Homo sapiens: one gene and its partners. The protein of the gene in region 3 interacts with the protein of the main gene of each other region in a biochemical or structural test. Each region holds a gene or a part of one and is shown on either strand. Other genes may lie near its edges.

The links.
Region 1: the proteins of SH3RF1 (region 3) and HERPUD1 form a complex in vitro, tested with the Homo sapiens proteins (one study listed by BioGRID).
Region 2: the proteins of SH3RF1 (region 3) and KCNJ1 form a complex in vitro, tested with the Homo sapiens proteins (one study listed by BioGRID).

The regions. Positions count from the first base shown.
Region 1 is NC_000016.10:56,927,223-56,935,141, forward strand, and holds the start of HERPUD1 (homocysteine-responsive endoplasmic reticulum-resident ubiquitin-like domain member 1 protein), read left to right. Parts: upstream 1-4,919; 5' UTR 4,920-5,022; coding exon 5,023-5,169; exon of another isoform or gene 5,170-6,072; coding exon of another isoform or gene 6,073-6,093; intron 6,094-7,919. UniProt on the Homo sapiens protein: Component of the endoplasmic reticulum quality control (ERQC) system also called ER-associated degradation (ERAD) involved in ubiquitin-dependent degradation of misfolded endoplasmic reticulum proteins.
Region 2 is NC_000011.10:128,864,167-128,871,851, forward strand, and holds the start of KCNJ1 (ATP-sensitive inward rectifier potassium channel 1), read right to left. Parts: upstream 3,131-7,685; 5' UTR 3,007-3,130; exon of another isoform or gene 2,584-3,006; intron 2,490-2,583; exon of another isoform or gene 2,387-2,489; coding exon of another isoform or gene 2,357-2,386; intron 1-2,356. UniProt on the Homo sapiens protein: Inward rectifier potassium channels are characterized by a greater tendency to allow potassium to flow into the cell rather than out of it.
Region 3 is NC_000004.12:169,134,872-169,142,029, forward strand, and holds part of SH3RF1 (E3 ubiquitin-protein ligase SH3RF1), read right to left. Parts: intron 1,750-7,158; coding exon 1,447-1,749; intron 1-1,446. UniProt on the Homo sapiens protein: Has E3 ubiquitin-protein ligase activity. In the absence of an external substrate, it can catalyze self-ubiquitination. Stimulates ubiquitination of potassium channel KCNJ1, enhancing it's dynamin-dependent and clathrin-independent endocytosis.

The DNA of each region.
Region 1 (7,919 bases), on a different chromosome or scaffold from region 3:
GCCACCGCCTCCCAGGTTCAAGCGATTCTCCTGCCTCAACCACCCCAGTAGCTGGGATTACAGGTGCCCGCCACCACGCCTGACTATTTTTTTTCTATTTTTAGTAGAGATGATGATTTTTCACTATGTTGGCCAGGCTGGTCTCGAACTCCTGGCCTGAGGTTATCTGCTTGCCTTGGTCTCCCAAAGTGCTGGGATTATAGGCATGAACCACCACTCCTGTCCCCAAATTTCTTTAAAAGGAGCTATCTCACCAGGCGATAACTCAAGAGAGAATCACAGAAATTAGATTGCCTTTTCCCTAGGGGAAGAAAATGCAAAATCACACTCCTAAACTTTCTTTCTTCTGAGTGGAAAGGGATAAGATATCTTAACGTCTTAAGGGGCCCTGAGGCTTGTCACTGCAGGTGAGGGGAAACCACACTACTGGCATATTTGATTTCTCAATGCAGCTGTCACCTCCTGCCTTGCTGCCTCCTTTAATGCCTATGTTGGTTTTACCTGGGCTTGCTCCACTGGTTAGCTTCTCCCTAGTTGCAAGACTACCAGATCATAATCAGTTATTATCTCCCATCCTGATGTGTGAAAAGCTACAGAATTTGTGGGACCCAGTGCAAAATGAAAATGCAAGGCTTCTGTTTAAAATTTATTAAGAATTTAAAGATAATAGCAGAGCATTAAACCAAGCATGGGGCCCCATCCACTACATGGGTCCCACACCCATGAAGCCAGCTTTGATGAAAAAAGGGTTAGGCCAGGTGGTGGCTCGCACCTGTAATCCCAGCACTTTGGGAGGCCGAGGCAGGTGGATCATTTGAAGCCAGGAGTTCGAGACCAGGCTGGCCAACATGGTGAAACCCTGTCTCTACTAAAAATACAAAAACTAGCTTGGCTTGGTGGTGGGCACCTGTAATCCCAGCTACTTGGGAGGCTGAGGCAGGATAATTGCTTGAACCTGGGAGGTGGAGTTGCAGTGAGCGGAGATCATGCCACTGCACTCCAGCCTGGGCAACAGAGCACGACTCCGTCTCAAAAAAGAAAAAAAGGTCAGAGCCTTCTCAGCCGACCAAAACCACTTGCAGAAAGCTGAGTGTGGGGACAATTTATTTCCAAAGCCCTCAACCTCTCATCTTAATATAAAGACAGCTGAGAAAGAAATCACCCTGTATTGTGTGTTATATTAAGATTGACTATTGTGGACTGAATTGAGTCCTCCAAAGAGATGCTGAAGCCCTAACCACCAGTACCTGTGAATGTGGCAGCATTGGGAAATAGGGCCTTTGCAGATGATGGAGTTAAGATGAGGTTATTAGTGTGGGTCCCAATCCATGATGACTGGTACTCTTATGGAAAAAAGAAATGTGGACACAGAGCCAGACATGCACACAGGGAAGATGATGTGAAGAGACCTACAAAAGGAGAACCCATGAGAAGATGAAGACAGGTTGGGGTGATGCTTCTATATGCCAAGGAACGTCAAAGAGTGCCAGCAGGCCGGGGGCGGTGGCTCACGCCTGTAATCCCAGCACTTTGGGAGGCCGAGGTGGACGGATCATGAAGTCAGGAGTTTGAGACCAGCCTGGTCAACATGGTGAAACCCCATCTCTACTAAAAATACAAAAATTAGCCAAGTGTGGTGGTGGGCGCCAGTAGTTCCAGCTACTCAGGAGGCTGAGGCAGGAGAATTGCTTGAACCTGGGAGGTAGAGGTTGCAGTGAGCCAAGATTGTGCCACTGCACTCTGGCCTGTGCATCAGAGCGAGACTCTGTCTCAAAAAAAAAAAAAAAAAAAAATCGGCCAGGCGCCGTGGCTCACGCCTGTAATCCCAGTATGTTGGGAGGCCGAGGCGGGTGGATCACAAAGTCAGGAGATCGAGACCATTCTGGCAAACGGTGAAACCCTGTCCTTACTTAAAAATACAAAAAATTAGCCAGGCGTGGTGGCGGGCACCTGTAGTCCCAGCTACTTGGGAGGCTGAGGCAGGAGAATGGTGTGAACCCGGGAGGCAGAGCTTGCAATGAGCCGAGATCATGCCACTGCACTCCAGCCCAGGCGACAGAGCGAGACTCCGTCTCAAAAAAAAAAAAAGTGCCAGCAAACCACCAGGATAGGAGAGGGGCCTGGAAGATTCTCCCCCGAGGCCTCAGAAGGAACCAACCCTGCCGACACCTTGATCTCAGACTTCCAGTTTCCAGAACCAAGACAATAAATTTCTGTTTCTTAAGCCAGGAGTTCCCAACCTTTTTGACACTAGGGACCAGTTTTGTGGAAGACAGTTTTTCCACAGGCCAGAGGTGGGGTGGGGGGGGCATTGTTTCAGGATGATTCGAGCACATTACATTTATTGTGCACTTTATTTCTATTATTATTACATTGTAATATATAATGAAATAATTATACTACTCACCATGGTGTAGAATCAGTGGGAGCCCTGAGCTTGTTTTCCTACAACTAGATGGTCTCATCTGTGGGTGATAGGAGACAGTGACACCCGAAGTATGGTGCTTATGTCAAGTCTACCCATTTTGGCTGCTGTCACTGCAGAAAACCCTGCTTCACAGAGATGGGATGTTGCAATAGGCCAGGCATGGAGGCTCACATCTGTACTGCTAGCACTTTTGGAGGCCAAGGCAGCTGGATCACTTGAGGCGAGGAGTTCAAGACCAGCCTGGCCAATATAGCACAACCCCATCTGTCTCTACTAAAAATAATAAAAATTATATATATAGCCAAGTGTGGTGGTGCACTCTTGTAATCCTAGCTACTTGGTAGGCGGAGGCATGAGGCACAAGAATGGCTTAAACCAGAGAGGCGGAGGTTGCAGTGAGCCGAGAACGTGCCATTGCACTTCAGCCTGGGCGACAGAGTGAGACCCTGTCTCAAAAAAAAAAAGGATGTTGGAAATGAAAGCAGGCTTTTCAGTGTTTTTGTGGCCATCTCAGGATTAAAGCCTAGACTTTAACCCAGAACGTGGAGATTTGAAGTTGTCTCAAACATACTGTTTTTTTGTTGTTGTTGTTGTTGTGTTTTTGTTTTTTTTTTTTTGAGACGGAGTCTCGCTCTGTTGCCCAGGCTGGAGTGCGATGGCACAATCTCGGCTCACTGCAACCTCCACCTCCCGGGTTCAAGCAACTTTCCTGCCTCAGCCTCCTGAGTAGCTGGGATTACAGGCACGTGCCACCATGCCCGGCTAATTTTTGTATTTTTTAGGAGAGACGGGGTTTCACCATGTTGGTCATGCTGGTCTGGAACTCCTGACCTTGTGATCCACCTGCCTCGGCCTCCCAGAATGTTGGGATTACAGGCGTGAGCCACCTCGCCCAGCCTCAAACATACTTTTAAGGCCACCAGATGCAGCTGTACAACTGAAGTACATACACTTGCCATTGTAAAGCCTGCCACCAGATGCAGCTTGTCACTTGCCACTCACTGATAGTGTTTTGATATGAGTCTGCAAGCAATTGATTTATGATGGCCTCTGTGCAGTGAAACCTCTCTGCTAATGTTAATCCGTATTTGCAGCCACTCTCAGCACTAGCATCAGCAACTCAGCTCCACCTCCCATCATCAGGCATTCGATTCTCGTAAGGAGCACAGCCTAGTTCCCTTGCGTGCACAGTTCACAATAGGGTTCGGCTCCTGTGAGGATCTAATGCCCCCTGATCTAACAGGAGGCTGAGCTCAGGTGGTAATGCAGCGATAGGGAGCAGCTGTAAATACAGATGAAGCTTCGCTGGTGGCTCACCTCCTGCGGTGCCGCCTGGTTCCTAATAGGCCAGGGACTCATAGTGGTCCGTGGCCCAGGGGGGTTGGGGACCCCGTCTTAAGCCATCCAGTTTGTGGCACTTTGTTATGGCAGCTGCAGCAGATGAATATACCCACCAACCAGACCAGGCTCCTCCTGTTACCTTCCTGACCTTGACAAGCTCCTGACAACACCTGAAAAAACAGATGTCCCAAGGGGGTTGGAACAAGGAGGGAGCCGGGGCAATGTCAGTTTTGTTTTTCAAGCCTTTTTTTTTTTTTTTTTTTTTCCTACAGAGGAGGAGGAGGGAACGCCTACAATAAAGAGGCCTTTATGGTCCCACTTCAGGAATCGGAGAACCCCGCCCTCCTCGTCTCAGCCCCAATTTAACGGGTGCATGTGTGAGTATCTTATAAAGTGACGCGTTTTGAGGGGGACTCCAGTGTGAGCAGGACTGTGGCTGACTTGTCAATCATCATTAGGGTGATGTCCCAAACGTTCAAGTCTGAGGCCCAGGGAAATTGGCAACAGCTGCCTGGATGCCTCCATCCTCCCAGCCCAAGGAAAATCTGGCCTTGCTCCTTCGTTGTCTTTCTTAGGAGCACGTGGAGTTCTCCTAGGTGGGCTTGCACTCGGGGTCGCCCAGCCGTTCTTTGAGGGTTCGAGTGGGTAGGCTTCCCCTGTAGGACGGGCTTCCCCGTAGGTTTCCACGTGGGGCCACAGAGGCAGGAAAAGGGGAAGTGGGCACTGACACCTGGGGTGAAAAAGGGTGGGGGTGCGGCTTTGTGAGGAAAGAATTTGCAGAGACTGCTAAACTGGGGTCTGCTAGGATACCCCACTCCCCACCCCCTGCCTCGGGCGCCCTCAGCCACCCGAGCTGGGGGCCTCGCAGGTCTCAGACCAAGCTCCCCGCGCGGCCTGCAGCGCACCCAAACATGGCCACCGAACCCGGGTTCCCGGGGCACAGCCGCGCCTCTGGGTGACGCAGACGCGGCGGGTTGCATCAGCCCGTGCCCACGTGCTCGGTCCGCCCTCTGCCACCCGGATCCGGACGCCGATTGGGCCACGTTGGGAGAGTGCCTCCGCCTCAGCCAATGGGCGGCAGCCACAGAGCGTTCTGTCCGCAGAGCCGGGCGCGGGGCTTCTATAAAAGGCGCCCGAAGCGGGGGCGCGCGCCCCAGAGACGTGAACTGTCGTTGCAGAGATTGCGGGCGGCTGAGACGCCGCCTGCCTGGCACCTAGGAGCGCAGCGGAGCCCCGACACCGCCGCCGCCGCCATGGAGTCCGAGACCGAACCCGAGCCCGTCACGCTCCTGGTGAAGAGCCCCAACCAGCGCCACCGCGACTTGGAGCTGAGTGGCGACCGCGGCTGGAGTGTGGGCCACCTCAAGGCCCACCTGAGCCGCGTCTACCCCGAGCGTCCGGTGAGAGCGGCCCCGACTTCCCGCCCCTAGGCTGTGGCCCCCCGCCCTCTGCTGGGGATGCCACGTCCGGCTGCCCTGTCCTGTGGCCTCCTCCCGCTGACGGCTGCGATCGCTCGGCCGGTCACCTCCCCCAGGGCTGTGGTCTCCCCTTCCCTGCCCCGCCGACGCGGGCGCCCCTCTGTTGCCCAGTAGCCGTCAGTAATCAGCAGCCTGACCTTGGGCGAGTCATTTCACCCTCCAAGCCTGTTTCTCCCCCAGCGGCCAGGCAACTCGGTGTTCCTAATTGGGCTTGCATCCAATGGCTAGAAGTAAGAAAACATCCGTGCTGCAAAATGAGGTTTCTGAACGCAGCCTCTCTGCAGGGAGAGGAGCGGGCAGGTGCCACCCGGGGCCGTGGCTTGAGAAACCTGGGGACCGCCCAGACACTGTGGACGGAAGGCCCCACACCCAGAAGCAGGACGTGGCTCTTCTCCTCCCTGGCCACCTTCCGCCGTGCCCCTCCCTGTCGCACTGGACCGAGCAGCCATTGCCGAGTCCCGGGGTGGAGCCCCGTGCACTTTCTGACCAAGAGCGACTGAGAAGGGAAGCAGGCAGGAGTCGCCTTCAGTCTGGTTTTAGGACGGCAGCCTCTCCATTATTAGCAAGACTTCCTTGCTTTGTTTTGGTTGACACATCTGTCAACATCACCCTTAGCACCGCCTGCCCTGGCCACCACGTGATGAGGCTGTAAGCTGGCCCTTCCTGTATTTACTTTCTGCTCTGATATTATGTAAGTGTCAGCAGTGTTCTTCACTGCCCACGAGCATAATTCTTCATCACACAGGAGAGGGCATCCGGGCAGGAAAAGATAGTGAAGTCGTGAGTTCCAGCTTGTGGTAGCGCCTGTGTCTGTTTTTGTTTCATATGGTCAAGAATGTTTTAGAAGTGAGTTTTCCTTCTGAGTTGTTATTTTGAAATTTGCATATTTATTTAGTAAGCTTGCATTCCATGTCCTCTAGAATTCACCCTGGCACATTTTTCAGTTTCACCATAGCTGCTTCCAAGAAACTGGGTGGCTGTGTTGCCATGAGAATGACTATTGGGTACACAAATTGGTGAAGCAGGTGTAGCCTATGGTTGCATCATATGGCAAAAGGCAGGATTTTGGCGGAGGATTTTTAAGGTCTTCCTTTGATGAGGAATGCCGCTCCCATCTGTTCAGTCTGAAGACCTAACATTGTAAACAAATACCTCTCAGGTATACAAATTTGTGTCTAAAAATTATTATGGCTGAAACATACTTATCATTTGTTTTCTGTAGTAGAAAATGGCATAATATGAGAAGGCCTACTTTGTAATAGTTGTTTGCTTTACTTAATATTTTTCAAATCAGCCATCTGTGTGAAGACTCAATATCAAGTTAGGCCTTTAAAAGGGGGAAAATAATTCAAAACCACTGGCAGCTGTGGTTTTCCGGCCTTTTCTATTGGTTGAACTCTGTAATAAATGCAGGACCCTACATATACAAAAGGTACTGTTTTCCAAATTCACGTATGTATTAGCATTTACCTTTAAAGTTCTCATCCGTCAGAAAAACGGTGAACACAGCATTCAGTATATTTATTTTGGTTTAGTTACACAGTGTCAAAAAGTTCTGATGTATATGGATAAGTAGATGCACTTTTTGCTGTTTTGTTTGTTTAAACAGCTTGCTTTAATTATCTCAAGCTACTTGGCAGGAACACCTTTATTCCAGGTTTCGCATAATCAGTTATTCTGGCAAGAGTAGATTAACACGTTAGTGATCTCCAATAGACAGATTATATGTTAATATTATTTGAGGCCATTATTTTTAAGTACAATTTAGACGGAGTTTCAAATAGATTTTAAAAATGAGATTTGTATAAAAGAGTGTGCAGTCCCTATGGTGTTAAAATCACTGATATGGAGGAGAAGAGGGGTTGGAATTGTGACACTGTGGCAGCAGATGACCTTGGACAAGTCAGTTTTTCAGACTTTCCTCCCTTAAAATAGGGATACTAAATCTCACAGGGTGGTTGTGTATAATGTCACCCACACGCCATCTCCTCTATAACTGCATTTGTATGCCAGGAAATTGTCTGTGAAGGCTTCAGTTTAGAATAGCTTCATATTATTTTGGGGCACTGCTGGGTGATTTTGGTTAAGGCTGGCCTTGGGAGTTCTCTGAGTTTTCTCTGAAACCAAACTCAATTTGGTTGTAGGTTCCCTGTTTGCTGTTTGTTGCTTTTAGTAATAGGAGTCAGTCAGTTTACCTGGGAGTTAAGTTTGGACTGGAGATAATTTGCCATTCTTTTTTTTTTTTTTTTTTTTTTTTTTTGAGATAGGGTCTCACTCTGTCGCCCAGGCTGGAGTGCAGTGACATGATCTTGGCTCACTGCAACCTCTGCCTCCCTGGTTCAAGCGATTCCCCTGCCTCAGCCTCCTGAGTAGTTTGGGTTACAGGCACAAGCCACCACGCCCAGCTAATTTTTGCATTTTTAGTAGAGATGGGGTTTCACCATGTTGGCCAGGCTGGTCTCGAACCCCTGACCTCAGGTGATCTGCCCGCCTTGGCCTCCCACAGTGCTTGGATTACAGGCATGAGCCACCATGCCCAGCCGATAATTTGCCATTCTGTATTTATTTGCGTGTTAGAGACCAGTTAAAGTTAAGACACTTTCTAAATAGAAGTCTTGTATATGGGGCTTTTGAGAAAGTGTTTTCCCGTGATGCTGGGGGGAAACACACAT
Region 2 (7,685 bases), on a different chromosome or scaffold from region 3:
ACCTCCGCCTCCCGGGTTCAAGCAATTCTCATGCCTCAGCCCCCTGAGAAGCTGGGACTACAGGTGTGTGCCACCATGCCTGGCTAATTTTCAAATTTTTAGACAGATGAGGTTTTTCCATGTTGGCCAGGCTGGTCTTGAAATCTTGACCTCAGATGAGCCTCAGCCACCAAAAGTGCTGGGATTACAGGTGTAAGCCACTGCACCAGGCCTATTGTTGACTTTTCTAGGGGTCTATCTTTTATATGTCTCTACACTAATTTTTTTCTTCAGCATTTTTTGAAGATGTTTGTTTTTGTTGTTTTCTTTTTCCAATTTCTGCACACCCTGCTTGTTCATGATGATTTCTGAACCACATAATCGAGCCAACCACTTTTTGCTATTTCACAGCAGTACTAATACTATTCCTGAACCATATATATTTCAGGAGAAAGAGCAGATTGGGAAAGCCTAGGCCCTTTTCTGTATACTTTTGGCTTGAGCCTAGGTCATCACAGTCTTGAATGTGGGAGGGTGAGTGGAAGGAAAAGGGTCTGTGCCATTCAAAGTGTGCTCTTTTTGCGGACTTTGGGAGTCTCTGGCTCCTGTTTCAGAGCTCCACTTCATCCTCGCCTGTCCCCATCACTCTCTGCAGCTGATTGGCCACCAGACTTTGTGTCTTCTCCCTCTTGGTAATCTCCTCCCTGATTACCCGGCCGTGGTCTTACCCTACTCTAGTCCACCTTGCACTGTGCAGGCAGAGCAACTCTTCCACAATGTAAATAAGATCTTACCCCGGTTCTCACCACCTTCCGGACACTGCCCAAGTTCCTCAGCATCACATACTAGGTCCTTCATCGTGGCACCCTGCAGCTTCCCTCACCCCTCCCCTGGCCACCCACCCTCAGCCACACCAGCCTGGTATTCCCTGTGTAAGTCATGCTCTCTCTCATTCTTGCATATTTTTGTAAATGCCATTTCCTTGTTCTAGAATGTTCTTCCCCCTGCCTCCAGTAGGCCCCTTCCTGCCCACCCAGCGCATTTAGGATCATGCTTCCATGAGGTCCTCTGTAGGAAAAGTATGATGTACTTTTCTGTGCAGGCAGCGATGATACTATGAGCTACATTTCTGTGTCACAGTCCCCACTCATCAGGTATCTCTCCCATTAGCGTGTGAGAGCCTGTTTCCATGCACATAGCCCCTAGCCCAAGTACCTGCCCTCTAGAGCAAAGCATTTCCCAAGCCATTCAGTGGTTTCCCAGGACCTAGCATCCAAAACACAATGAGTTCTAATTACAAGCTTGTTGAAAGGCAAATGAAGAAAAAAACCTGTATGTATAATAATAATAGTCATGAGAAAGACAAGAATGAAGAGAAGAAAGACAATAGTCATCACTGGCATCTTAAATTATGGAGCCAAGGGGAGAAACATTTGGGTCACCCTCAGGATCAAACTGCCAGGCCAGAAGCAATTCCACTGAGAGGGCACCAGGAAGCCTTCAATGCATGGAAACCCTGGAGCAAGTAAAAGGCAAAGCATGTGAGTCACAGCTGAATCCCTGGACAATCACTGAGCTGTGACAAGGTGCAGGGTAGACTCATAACCTAGCACAGAAAAACACATTACTGAGGAAAGGAAAAGAACGTGAATGGGGAATTTTGAGACTTAGCTCTTCACAGAAAAGCATGCTTGGCAATTACAAACTTCTTATATTAAAAAAAATCAGGCAAACCAAAAGTCATTAAAGCATTAAAGATTAAGACCCACTCACAAGGAATTCACATACTCTGCTTCTTTACAAGGGCAGTCTTGCACCTACACTGACTTGGTGCACCTCCTTACACAGAAGAAATCCACCTTCATGACTTGAGTATAAAAAAATGCTTTTCTGATGGCCCATACGTTCCCAGATATCTCCACCCCATCATGCTCTTAAAAGCTGAAGCTGACTTAGTGAGAATCCATTTACACTAAACAGTGTAGAGTAAGACAACACAAGCCAAGCCCATGACTGAAGGGAGCCCACAAAGACTGGGCAGCTCCTCCAATGTAACCGAAGATTCAACCAAAGATTCTAACTGCCCTCCAGCCCCAGGGCTACGGAATGGCCCAGGGAAGGCAGCGTGCAGCTCGCAACTAATAATCCAGGTACAACCAGCAGATCAAAAGCATCCAGTGAGTGGCTCTGCCAAGTCCCTGTCCATAAAAGGTCCATAGCACAATCACTATGTTTTGCTCCATTTTGTAAGCCCAGCTAAAAGGAGAAAAATTCAATCATTTTTCCTAAAGATTGCTGGTTGCGAAAGACCAACTCCTTTTAAGCGTCTATGCACCAAATCTGTAAGATACAGATATTGGGAGAAGGGGCTCCATACCTGTTCAGAGCAGAGATAAACAGTTGGCATTCACTGGTATAGAGCAATTGTCACAACAGTCATTAGGAAGCTGAACAAATGTTGAGAAATCCAAATGTATCCATTCAGAATGGTGCAAAATTCCTATAAAGTCCTACATCAGAAAATGAAAGAAAGACATTTGGGTGAAGGTAATCAAAATGTCTGGCTAACTCTTGCCTTTTCCTGATATATGTTTTCCATAATAGACCCCACTAGCACCTTGATCCTCTACCTTAAAGATGGAAACGGCTTGGCAGAGGTTGTGTTACTAGGCAAGGTCTTGCTACAATTGAAAGGATGCCACCAGAGATGAAAACCCTACATACATCTCTGCCACCAAAAGAAGACTTTGGAATCAGGCATGATGCAACCAAAGATTCTTACTGCCCTCCAGCCCCAGGGCTGCGGAGTGACCCAGGGAAGGCAAGATGCAGCACACAGCTAATAATCCACATGTAACCAGCACACCAAAAGCATCCAGTGAGTGAGTTAAAACCATGCTTCTATCTATCCCCCAGGAGTGGACAGACAAGTCTGCCTAGATTTGAGGCGGGGAAAAGAGGTCTAAATTTTCACAAGAATTAACTTCTTTTTCCTACAAAGAGACAATGAGGTGTTTCTCCTCTTACCTCATGGATTGCTGGAGTAAATGTAGAAACAAAAACTCATTTTCTTGGTCTCCAAGAAAGCAACCAGATTCTCGATGTGAGCAAGTCCCTGCACCTTTGATGCAAGAGTTTGGATATGCTAGGTGAGGGTACCCGAGGCCCTGTTGATTTTATGAGTCTGTGGGCCAGCTCAGACCGGCTGCCAACTCATCTGTATGCAACAGTTCTCAAAGAACATAGTTTACTTTATAACCGGATCCAACAAGAGTAGGCGTGGCAGTTAAGTGAGTGAGATACCAAAGGTGTTGAGCTACCAAGGCTAACTAAGAAGGATTTGTTTATGGAACCCTGGCTTGGAACCAGAAGGCCGGTATGCTCATGTCGATGTGTCTAAGTCAAAGGCATGAAGTTGAACACGTGCGCACATGAGGCTGGATGTTACAGGGCAGGGAAGTAGGGGTCCCCAAGGAGCCCCTCACAAATGTCTCCTGTCCTGTGAATCACTCAGTGGCCCTAGAACAGCAGTCCCCAACCTTTTTGGCACCAGGGACCAGTTTCATGGGAGACATTTTTTCCATGGACCAGGGAGGTGGTGGGGGAGGATGGTTTCGAGATGATTCAAACACATGACATTTATTGTGAACTTTGTTTCTACTGTGTTTACTTATAATAATTACTTTACTTCTATTATATTCTATTATATTCCTTATTTCATTATATATTATATTCTAATATATAATGAAATAATATTCTATTACATTATATAATATTCTATTCTATTCTATAATATTATAGAATGAAATAATGAATATGGGATGAAATAATGAAATATTCTATTCTATTATAGAAGGAAATAATATTCTATTCTATTCTATGAAATAATATTCTATTATATTCCTTATTTCATTATGTATTATATTCTAATATATAATATAATATATATTATGTATTATATTCTAATATATTATATAACATATATTATGTATTATATTCTAATATACTCTATAACATATATTCTGTATTATATTCTAATATATTATATAACATATATTCTGTATTATATTCTAATATATTATATAACATATATTCTGTATTATATTCTAATATATAATATATATTCTGTATTATATTCTAATATATAATATATATTATGTATTATATTCTAATATATAATATATATTCTGTATTATATTCTAATATATAATATAATATATATTATGTATTATATTCTAATATATTATATAACATATATTACGTATTATATTCTAATATGTTATATAATATATATTACGTATTATATTCTAATATATTATATAACATATATTACGTATTATATTCTAATATATTATATAACATATATTACGTATTATATTCTAATATATTATATAACATATATTACGTATTATATTCTAATATATTATATAACATATATTACGTATTATATTCTAAATATTATATAACATATATTACATATTATATTCTAAATATTATATAACATATATTACGTATTATATTCTAATATATCATATAATATATATTATGTATTATATTCTAATATATAATGAAATAATTATACAACACCACCATAATGTCGAATCAGTGGGAGCCCTGAGCTTGTTTTCTTGCAACTAGACAGTCCCATCTGGGGGTGATGGGAGACAGTGACAGATCATCAGGCGTTAGATTCTCATAAGGAGCGCACAGCCTAGATCCCTCGAATGCGCAGTTCACAAAAGGGTTCAGGATCCTGTGAGAATGTAATGCCGCTGCTGATCTGACAGGAAGCGGAGCTCAGGCAGTAATGTGAGCCATAGGGAGTGGTCAAAATACAAATGAAGCTTTGCTCACCTACCACTCACCTCCTTCTGTGCAGCCTGGTTCCTAGCAGGCCACAGACCAGGTGTGGGGACTCCTGCCCTAGAAGGTCAGGCTGACCTGACTTTCTCTTGGCCATTCACCAGCCACCCTGGTCCCGGGGCAATGCAGAACTTTACATCACAGACTTTGCACTTCAGTGGTGGGGTTGAGACCCTGCTCTACCAACTGCAAGTTACCTAGCTTCTCACCTCAGAAGTCTACAGTGGGAAGCTCAAGAGATAGCATATGTAATACACTTGTCATTGAATGAACAGGGTTGAAATCCAACCTACTCCGAGTGTCAGCCTTCTGTCTTCCTCCTCAGCCCACCCCCTAGGGCCATCTCCCACTAGGAGACTGAGGGAGAGGAGTCCTTACCCCACACCCCTCCTGAGTTGCTCTCTTCCCACTGTTCCTCACACTTCACAGCTGGTAATCACTTGAAGCATTGATTGGGTTCGCAAGAAGCAAGAGTGGGTGACTGTGGGCTGGCCACATGCCCCTTCACTGCCTGTCCCCTCCTCCACTCAACACCACACAAGATTGTAGGAGGGATCAACCTCAGCTCAAGAGTCAAAGAGATGAGAAGCATCAGAGCAGCAGCGTAGCTTGGAGACCATACACCAGGTTCCTGACACCAGTCCCCGGGGCAGGACAGCTGAGTCTCCATGATGCTCAGAGAAGGGATAAAATGGAAACAGATGCAAAATTTCACGGAAAAGGCACTTTTGCTTTCAAACATTTATAAGCATAACCAGTCATTACAGATAAGGAAAAAGAACATAGTAGGTTGCTATGGTCTGAATGTGTCTCACAAAATTTATATATTGAAACATAATCCCCATGAGATAGTTTTAAGAGGCAGGGCCTTTAGGAGGTGATTAAGTCATCAGGTAGAGCCCTTCCAGATGGGGTTAGGGCCCTTATCAAAGGGCTCGAGGGAGGAGGTTCATTCTCTTCTGCTGTGAGGACACAGTGTTTGTCCTCTTTCTGCCCGTCTGCCTTCCACCATGTGATGCAGTGGTCAAGGCCTCAGCAGACATCAAACCTGCCTGTGCCTTGGTCTTGGACTTCCAGCCTCCATAACTCTCTGTGGTTTATAAATTACCCAGCCTCAGATATTTTGTTACAGCAGCCCAGACAGAACAAGACACAGGTGTAAGTGAAGCCACTTGCAGAAGGGTTCCCATGCGAAGTGAGGTGGGAGGAGACCCACACTAAGGAGCTACAACATGGTGGGGGAAAGAGCAACAGGCGGGGAGTCCACGCTCCTGCTAAATCTGGCCTTCTCCCTTCACAGGTGGCCTCCTGTGGTCACGCCTGTCCCTGCTGCTGCTTGCCGTCCTTGGGTTCACCCCCTCTGTCCACAGGCCCTCCCTTCTGCACCCCTCACTGCGTGGCCCTCTACCTACCTTTGCAGGCCTCCCAATCCCCCCAGTGGGATATTCCCAAGCCTCAGGTTCACCCAACCCTACCCCTGAGCAGGCCTGGGTGTGGAGGCCAGGAGAACACGCCCTGCAGCCCAACGAAACGCAGGGAGAGGAAGTGTCCAAGGCCAAAGGGGCTGCACTCTGAAGGGACTGAGCACAGGAGGACATGAAGGGAGGCAGTCCCCGGGAGAGGTGGGCTCCTCCAAGGGTGCCTTTGGCTGGAGCACTCTTGCACGGCCGTGGAATCTTCCTTAGACTCCATGGCAGTCTAGGATGCATCCTCCCAACCTGCTCTCCCTCCTCCCCTCAGGGTCTGCCCTGAGTCCTGGTCTGAAAACTCCTCAGACAGCCTCCCTCTGACTTTCCTCACCTGGGCATCTCCTCCAACAAAATCTTGGCATTTTTAATCCCCTCTTGGCATCTGCTTCTCAGAGGCCCTGGACTGGTGCATGAGGCTCTTCAGATGGGATGTGAACTGTCAGAGAGCTTGGCAGGAGGCCCTTTGGAGTCCCACAGAACAACTCAGGAAAGGGGGCTTCCCTGACCCAATGTCCAGCGTGGAGGCCCTAGGGGGCAGGCATTCTGAGCCTCCCCACCTGTGTGGGCTGAAGGCGTGTCTTTGACTCTTGTGATCCAGCAGACAGCTGTGGAAATACAAACACATACAGAGAAACATGTGTCTCCCCCAGGTAAGCATTCATCCTCACAGAATAAACCCCAAACAGGGAGAAGTGTTTTTTAACTACTTCATTCATTTGCAAGGCAGGTACCTTTTGCACAATGGAGCCAGAATGTCTCATTATTATGCAGACCAGGGAGTTATCTTACCTTCATCCCCCACTCCTTGCCCCCAATCTTCAAAACTGGGCCCTTTTGGACCTGCTGGGAATGAGAAAGAGGACTGTTGCTAAGCAACAGGGAGGGCAGGGGATGCATTCTCCCTGTTCCACAAATCCTAGTCTTAAAGCACAAATGATAGCGTTTGCCCTGATGGAATCCTACACCTTCCAGTACCCCAGCGGGATGCACTCTCAGTCCTTCCGCCTTACCACTGTCTTCACGGAGAAATTCCGTTCCTGCTGTGGCGCCTGGCAACTGCTTCACTACCTCTGTAGCCATGAGACAGCCTGAGTCCTCCATGGTGGGATTGTGTGTGACAATGAGAAGACAGCCCAACTCCTCTTTCCCTGATGCAGTCCGGCCCCTCTGTGCTGTGTAGCCTCACCAGGTTCCCAACACTGATGAGGTTACACGCCCAGCATTTACTCCTCAGACTGGACCTGGAGCATCCCGCCGCTGGACCTGAGTGAAGACCAGAGTCAACAGACGGTTTTCTCTTTCTCTTAAAGAAGTTTGGAACATTTGAAACATATTATCCTATTCATGACTAATATTCCAACAGGAGTCATTCAG
Region 3 (7,158 bases):
GCCTTCACTGCACTCATGTTCTAGTTGTGCGTTGTGCGTGTCTTTATTTCTCAATAAGAGTTTCATGGCCCTACCACCTAAAAATGCCACAAAACAACAATCCCACAATCCCATTCAGAAAGTGAATGCATTTAACTTGAAACACGCAGTATAAATCTAAAGGAGCAGGGTCAAATAAATGAGGCTGAGGCTGTGGCTCATACTTGTAATCCCACCACTTTGGGAGGCCCAGGTAGGATGTTCACTTGAGGCCAAGAGCTTGTTACCAGCCTGGGCAACAAGGTGAGACCCCATCTCTATTAAAAACAAACAAACAAACAAACATGAGGCTGAGAAAAAAATGGCAAGGGATATCAAAAACTGTATTTTACATTTTCATTCTGTGGTCCAAAATAGGCACTTACTAGAATGTAAACTTTTTGAGGACCAGGACTGGTATTTCTTTCTTTTTCTTTAAGGGGACATAATTTCATTTTAATGTTTAAAGAAAAAAAAACCACCATAGCTATATGGTGGAGCAGAATGTAAAATCTGCATGAATTTTCAAGATGAAACATGAGACTTGAAAGAAATTCCTTCTGCTTGTGACAGGCAGCTTTGAACTAGATTCTTTGACCTTTAAGTTGAACAAAATACAGCCATCACCTAAGTGGATAATGATAGCAGCCCCGTGGCTTGGGCAGGGTTATAATTAGGTTCTTTTTGTAGTGCAGAATTAAAGCCTAACACAGCAAATTGCTATATTTTAGATATCATGGTATACACAGTGCCTAGAAGGGTCTAATAGTAAAGTGCTCAATAAATGTCTGCCAAATGAATGAATGAATGATTGAATGAATGCCCCAGTCATCCCATGTATTTTTATAAACCTAAGAATAACGCGTGGCTATTTTTTACATACCAGTCCAAAGTTGTAATGAACTAATGAACTTAGAAAGTGTGAGGTCAATTTCTAATTTAAATTAAATGCTTCTTTCTGTCCTTGCTCTTTTTCTCTTCTCTATAATTCTGGGAAGCCTACATATTAAGGTAAGTTACATAGATACAAGCAACTACAAACGTCACGAGTTTGGACCATGGCATCTTAAATCTGGGTGGAGATAAAGTTTTAGTTGGCAAGATCTCCCAAAGCAGTACTGTGAGAAAGTTCTGTAAGGCTGAGTGATTGCTTGGTGAAACTGGTAAGTATTATATAACTCATCTTGTAAGTTCTGATCTTTCCTTTGAAAATGACAGAGTAGTTAGTTCTGGGTTGATACACTCAAGTTAGCTTTCCCTTCTCCATTTTTCCACTTACAAAATGAAGACAGGTTTTGCTTCCCAGAAAAGTTACTATCTTCAGAAGTTCAAAATAAGCAATGTTTGTCAGCCAGTGAGCAAACATGTTTGTAAGTTGATCCTTTTGTGGGTGAGCTCTTTTTATATAACACTTGTTTGAGGATTTACCTGAGAAGGGGCACTGCAGGAGAGCCCAGACAGCTCGCTGATCCGTGCAGCAGCAGTGGGGTTGCTGGAGCTGATGAGGACAGGGGGGCTGATCTCCATGGAGTGGCGGTTCTGGGATGCCTGGGAGGACTTGTTGGCCATAGTGAGGGAAGTGAAGGAGTGCCGCTTTTTGGTGTTCTTCTTGGTGTCGGAGTGCTTTGGGGCAGTGCTGCTCTGGGCTGCTGCCGAGGAACATTCTCCAGCATCAACTCCTGGCACAGGAGGCTTATCCCATTCTATCAGCTGCTTAGCAGCCGAGTTAAACTGCAAAAGCAACCAACAAACCAACACAAGAAGGTTAAACAATTCCTAAGAATTCCCTGAGGTTTATTTCCAACATGATTTCATCCAAAATTTAAAGTCACTACTTTAAAGTTTGCCTATGCAGTGTCTGTTTTTCCCATGTGAGATATCTCTTCTCTCAATATTGGGACTTCATTGTATCTATATCACAGGTAGATATTAAATCAAGAATAAACAATTCCATTGCAAGACTGAAAGAGTAAAAGACAATTTTCTTAAGAATTTCCATAATGTCTGATTTTAAAACTTGCCAATAACAAATGAAAATTTATTTCAGCTCACTGTGAAATTTCGAGAAGAGCAATCAAAATGGTGTATTTATCACCCTTTTCGTGACACCCTGTTGCACAATAATGGTTGGGTATTTGCTCAAAGCACAACTGAACAATGAAGGGGCAACTTCTGGGTTTGGTAAAAATGAGCAAGAAGACAAAGAATAAAACCATTCAAAATGAACTCATGTGCTTCCATGTATATTTACCTCCTGCCTTTCTTTCTGTATTCTGGGAGAACCTCACAAAAAGCTGGCAGAAACTCTTAATATGTTTTTTGTCATGTCATTGTATCAGCTATCATCCTATGTGCACGTACTTTAAATCATAACAGGGTAAGACATGAAATTCAAGTCCTATTGGCAAGTTAACTTCATCTATCTGAAAAGCCCCAGTGTAAATTAAGAGTACCAGGGGTCAAAATCTGTGCACTCCACTGATATTATCAGCAAGAAAGGAAAGAACACAAGCCTTTTGTTTTCCCTAGGGTAAAATAAAACATTTCTGGAAAGCTTCAGTGACAATAAGCTGCATATAACTTTCCCAGATATTACAGTAATGGAAACATAGCTCAACCTCTCAAAAAAAATTGAGATGCAAAATAATAAACTTTTAAAAGGTAACTTAAATATAATATTAAGGAAAACAGTGATTTTTCCATCTCGGCATTACACATTGGGCACTTCACAAATGTCTTTATATAAAATAATATCATGTACTATTTTTCCCACTTAAATTGTTCAGGCTATGTCTTCTCATCCTGTTGATAAGATCACTCTACTAGAAGAATGGAAACTCTCTCAGTCAATATTTTATGAAATGAACTTGCTTTGGAACAACCGCTTCCTCACAAAGCCATGTTAACTGGAGCTCAGCAGTCACTGCTTCTACAGATGATTGCAAATTGACTGACAATTTGTTCCTAAGGCTCCTTGGGGACTCAAATTCAGGTGGCTTGTCTCATCTATAATTAGTAAGATAAATCTTTATCAAACATGACCATATCTCTTCTTCAGACTTTAAGAAGTTTCTCCACATGATAATCATTCAGAAATAATAGGCAGTAACGCCAGAATAACACCTGTCAATGCCTGAAGTACCAATGGCGGGAGAAAGATCATAAAGACTTCTTCCGATATGTGTTTAGGGATGAAAATGAGGTTCTAGTTGAGGGTGGCCCTATTACAAGCATTTTCAAGGCAATTGGCCAGGAGATCCAGAATTTACAAATCCTTTCTTGGTCTAGCTATCCCACCTTGAGAATAAAAAGCCCAAATGAAGCAAAGTAATGCTTTATATTATAGTGGGAGTGGCCTGAACCTCACTGTAGAGCTCTAATAAACTGCAGTGAACCATGGAGGGGTAGGGTCCTCTTTCCTGCACAGGTTGGGTGTAAGGAGCCTGGAAACAAAGCAGATTGAAAAGCTACTTCATCTCCTCCATCCCAAACACAACATCCTCATGAAATGAAGGGCCAGCACACCTGGCAATGCTGGAGAAAAAGGAGCCAGAGAATGTCTTCTTCCACCATAAGCTTATTTAGACACCTAGAAACAAATCTTTGAAAGTGCAAACCTAATCAGTGTGCTGGAAACTGACTGATCAACTCAGCACTCCTGTCCCAGTGAGTAAGAAGTAGAGGAGGGAGTTGAGAAGACTTTCTTCTCATTGAGGCAAAAAATATGAATAGAGGAAACTATCAAATCTAGTTGATATCATGTTTAGATTAATTCTGGGGTCAAACAATAGACTCCATTAGTGGTGCTTGTTTTGAAAGGTTCTGAAAAATTACTATAGTCTCATCATGATCATACCTGGCTGGCCAAGTGTCAGTTATATATTCAACATTGTGTTAGTATTTCAGGTTTCCATATGCTGTGCTCTGGTATAAACATCTGAGGATTAAAATATTGTTCCCAATATTTCCTGCTGCTTTCTCAACAGAACAATACTGGGTGCTTCCTTTGTGTCTTTCTTCATATCATATATTCTCCATTAAAATAAATACACATTGAGCATCTATTTTTGGGGGGACTGGGGGGAAAGGTCTCACTCTGTTGCCCTGGCTGAAGTGCAGTGGCACATTCATTGCTCAGTGCAGCCTCGAACTCCTGGGCTCAAGCAATCCTCTTGCCTCAACCTCCTGAGTAGTTGGGACTATAGGTATGCAACACCACACCCAGCTAATTTTAGTAGCAATGAGGTCTCATTATGATATCTAGCTGGTGTCGAACTTCTGAGCTCAAGCGATCCTCCTGTCTCAGCCTTTCAAAGTGCTGGGATTACAGGCGTGAGCCACTGTGCCTGGACTCTGAGCACCAATTATGTGCTGAATAATGTGCTTGGTGTTAAAGATCTACAAATGCAGAGAAATGATCTCTGCCCTTAAGGACCTTACAAACAGGCATAAAAATAACACAGTGCTTTCCATAATTTCTTATGTCTAGCTACTTTTGCTCAACAATATGCTTTTTGAGATTTATCCATATTGCTCCATGAGTCAGTAGTTCTTTCTTTTAAATTGCTGTGTAATATTCTATTGTGTAAATACACTATAATTTATCTATCCATTCTACTGCTGATTAACATGTGGGTTTTCTTTCCTCCTTTCCTGTCTTCCTTCCTTCCAATAGACAGTGGCTATTAAGAACAATGCTGCTGTGAATAATCTAGTTATGTGTCTTTTGGTGGACATAAGCTCCCATCTGGATATTGGGTACATGTCCAGGAGTAGAACTGCTGGACCATAGGGTTGGATGCTTGGAAAAATTTATGCAGAATCATGTGTATGCAGGTAGACACATCCTGGAGTGGTGTAACAAGCCAACTGGCAAGTAGAAGACCACAGTTCTAGTCCTAGCACAGCCATTACCTAACTTTGGGGCCTTAAGGGAGCCATCTTACCTCTATTGTTCACAGCTTCCTAATCTATAAAGTAAGTTGGAGCCAATGATTTTTAGGTCTCTTTTAGCTCTCCACATGTATAATGCATAATCTCACTTTAAATGGACAAGTTTCATTTTTCTATTTGATTTCTATTCCTCTAAATAGCCTAGCATATTTTTTCTGCATTTGATTTTTATGCATGGACAGTAATATTTGTTAGCAAGATGCTGTCATACTTTAAAATTACTTGAGATTTCTTCTGAAGCAGCACATATTAGTATTAAAAAACACTGCTCCTTGCTTCCTGTATCAGTTCCAGAGAAAATCATAAAGTTAAGACTATTTGGTAGAGGCATTAAGTAAATCAGGCAGAAACATAAAGCAGCTTTTGCTGTAAGTATAGCAACCTTTGGTAACAATAGGAAACCAAGAATCTGATAGCTTTTAGTAGAATTTTGATAAAATTCATGTATGAATGTTTGAGCTCAGTAGTGTGAGCTTTCTGTGACATTTATCTAACTATGACCTTTAATGTTAGGAGTACACTCATCACCTGCAAAATAAATTTGTATCCTAAAATACCTTCTTCCAAGCATTTGGTAAGGAGCTTTGATAAGACTTAGGTTGGATATAAGGTAAAATTCAGTATACTGGAGATAAAAGCAGGGATTCTATTCATTACTCTTAAAATTCTTATGCCCCTTTTTGGAAAAAAGTCTAAAATGTAGAAAGAATGTGTTTTTGAGAGTTATCAGAAGTATAAATAAATATGAGATGAAATACTGACAAAAATAATATTAATAAAAACAACAAGGCAGCTTAAGAAATATTAAAATAAACTTTTTTGTGTGTATGGTTGCCCTCTTTGCTAGAGAGAATATAGCCTTTTTTAAAAGGCGGGACTTACAATATTTTAAAGAGAAAAAATTTTTTAATAAGAACTAAGTTGAATAGTTACTATTTTATAGGAAGCTTTACAGATGAATCAGTCTGTAGCTTCTGAGCACTACAGGATACAAACAGTAGATCTGAGAAGTAATTATTTTAATTCACAACCCACTAGAGCAAGCTTGTCCAACCCACGGTCCTCTACATGTAGCCCAACACAAATTTGTAAACTTTCTTAAAACATTATGAGATTTTTTTTGAGGTTTTGTTTTTTCTTTTCTTTTTTTTTTTTTTTTAAGCTCATCAGCTATTGATAGTGTTAGTGTATTTTATGTGTGGCCCAGGACAATTCTTCTTCCAATGTGATCCAGGGAAGCCAAAAGATTGGACACCCTTGGTATAGAACATTATGAAGTAAAAAGTAAAAGGCCTCAGCCAGTTCCCCACATCTGTCTCTTCCCAACCCACTTCCCAGATGGATTTCCATTTAACAATTTAAAACATATCCTTCATTTTCTATGTAGATGTTGTTATACATGTATCTACTTTATTGATTTTTAATACAAATAAAACCAAGCAATCCATTCTATTCTCTCATGAAATAATATTTCATGAACATCTTTGCATATCAATAGGGATAGGCTGATAGCATGGTATTCCATTTTATAGAGACGTTGCCATTTACTATGTCTTGGCAGGCTCGTACAAGCATATCCATAGGGTAAACTCCTAAAAGTAGAATTTGCTAGATCAAAGTGTAAGTTTAAAAATCGTTTTTTGAAGTAACAAGGTGTATTATATTGTTTTAACTTGTATTTCTATTTATTAATGAGATTAAGCATCTATTTTCTTTTTTTAGGATTTGCTTATTTCCATACTCTATCCATATTTCTATTGGATTGTTAGTATTTTTCTTATAGACTGATATAAATACTTTTTTTTTTTTTTTGGAGACAGGGTCTCCCTCTGTCATTGAGGCTAGAGTGCAGTGGCACAATCTCAGCTCAGTGCAACCTCTGCCTCCCCGATTCAAGTGATTCTCCTGCCTCAGCCTCCTGAGTAGCAGAGATTATAGGCAAGTGCCACCATGGCCCGCCTAATTTTTGCTTTTTTTTTTTTTTTTTTGAGATGGAGTCTCGCTCTGTTGCCCAGGCTGGAGTGCAGTGGCGTGATGTCGGCTCACTGCAAGTTCTGCCTCCCAGGTTCACGTCATTCTCCGGCCTCAGCCTCCTGAATAGCTGGGACTACAGGTGCCTGCCACTACACCTGGCTAATTTTGTTTTTGTATTTTTTTAGTATAGACAGGGTTTCACCGTGTTAGCCA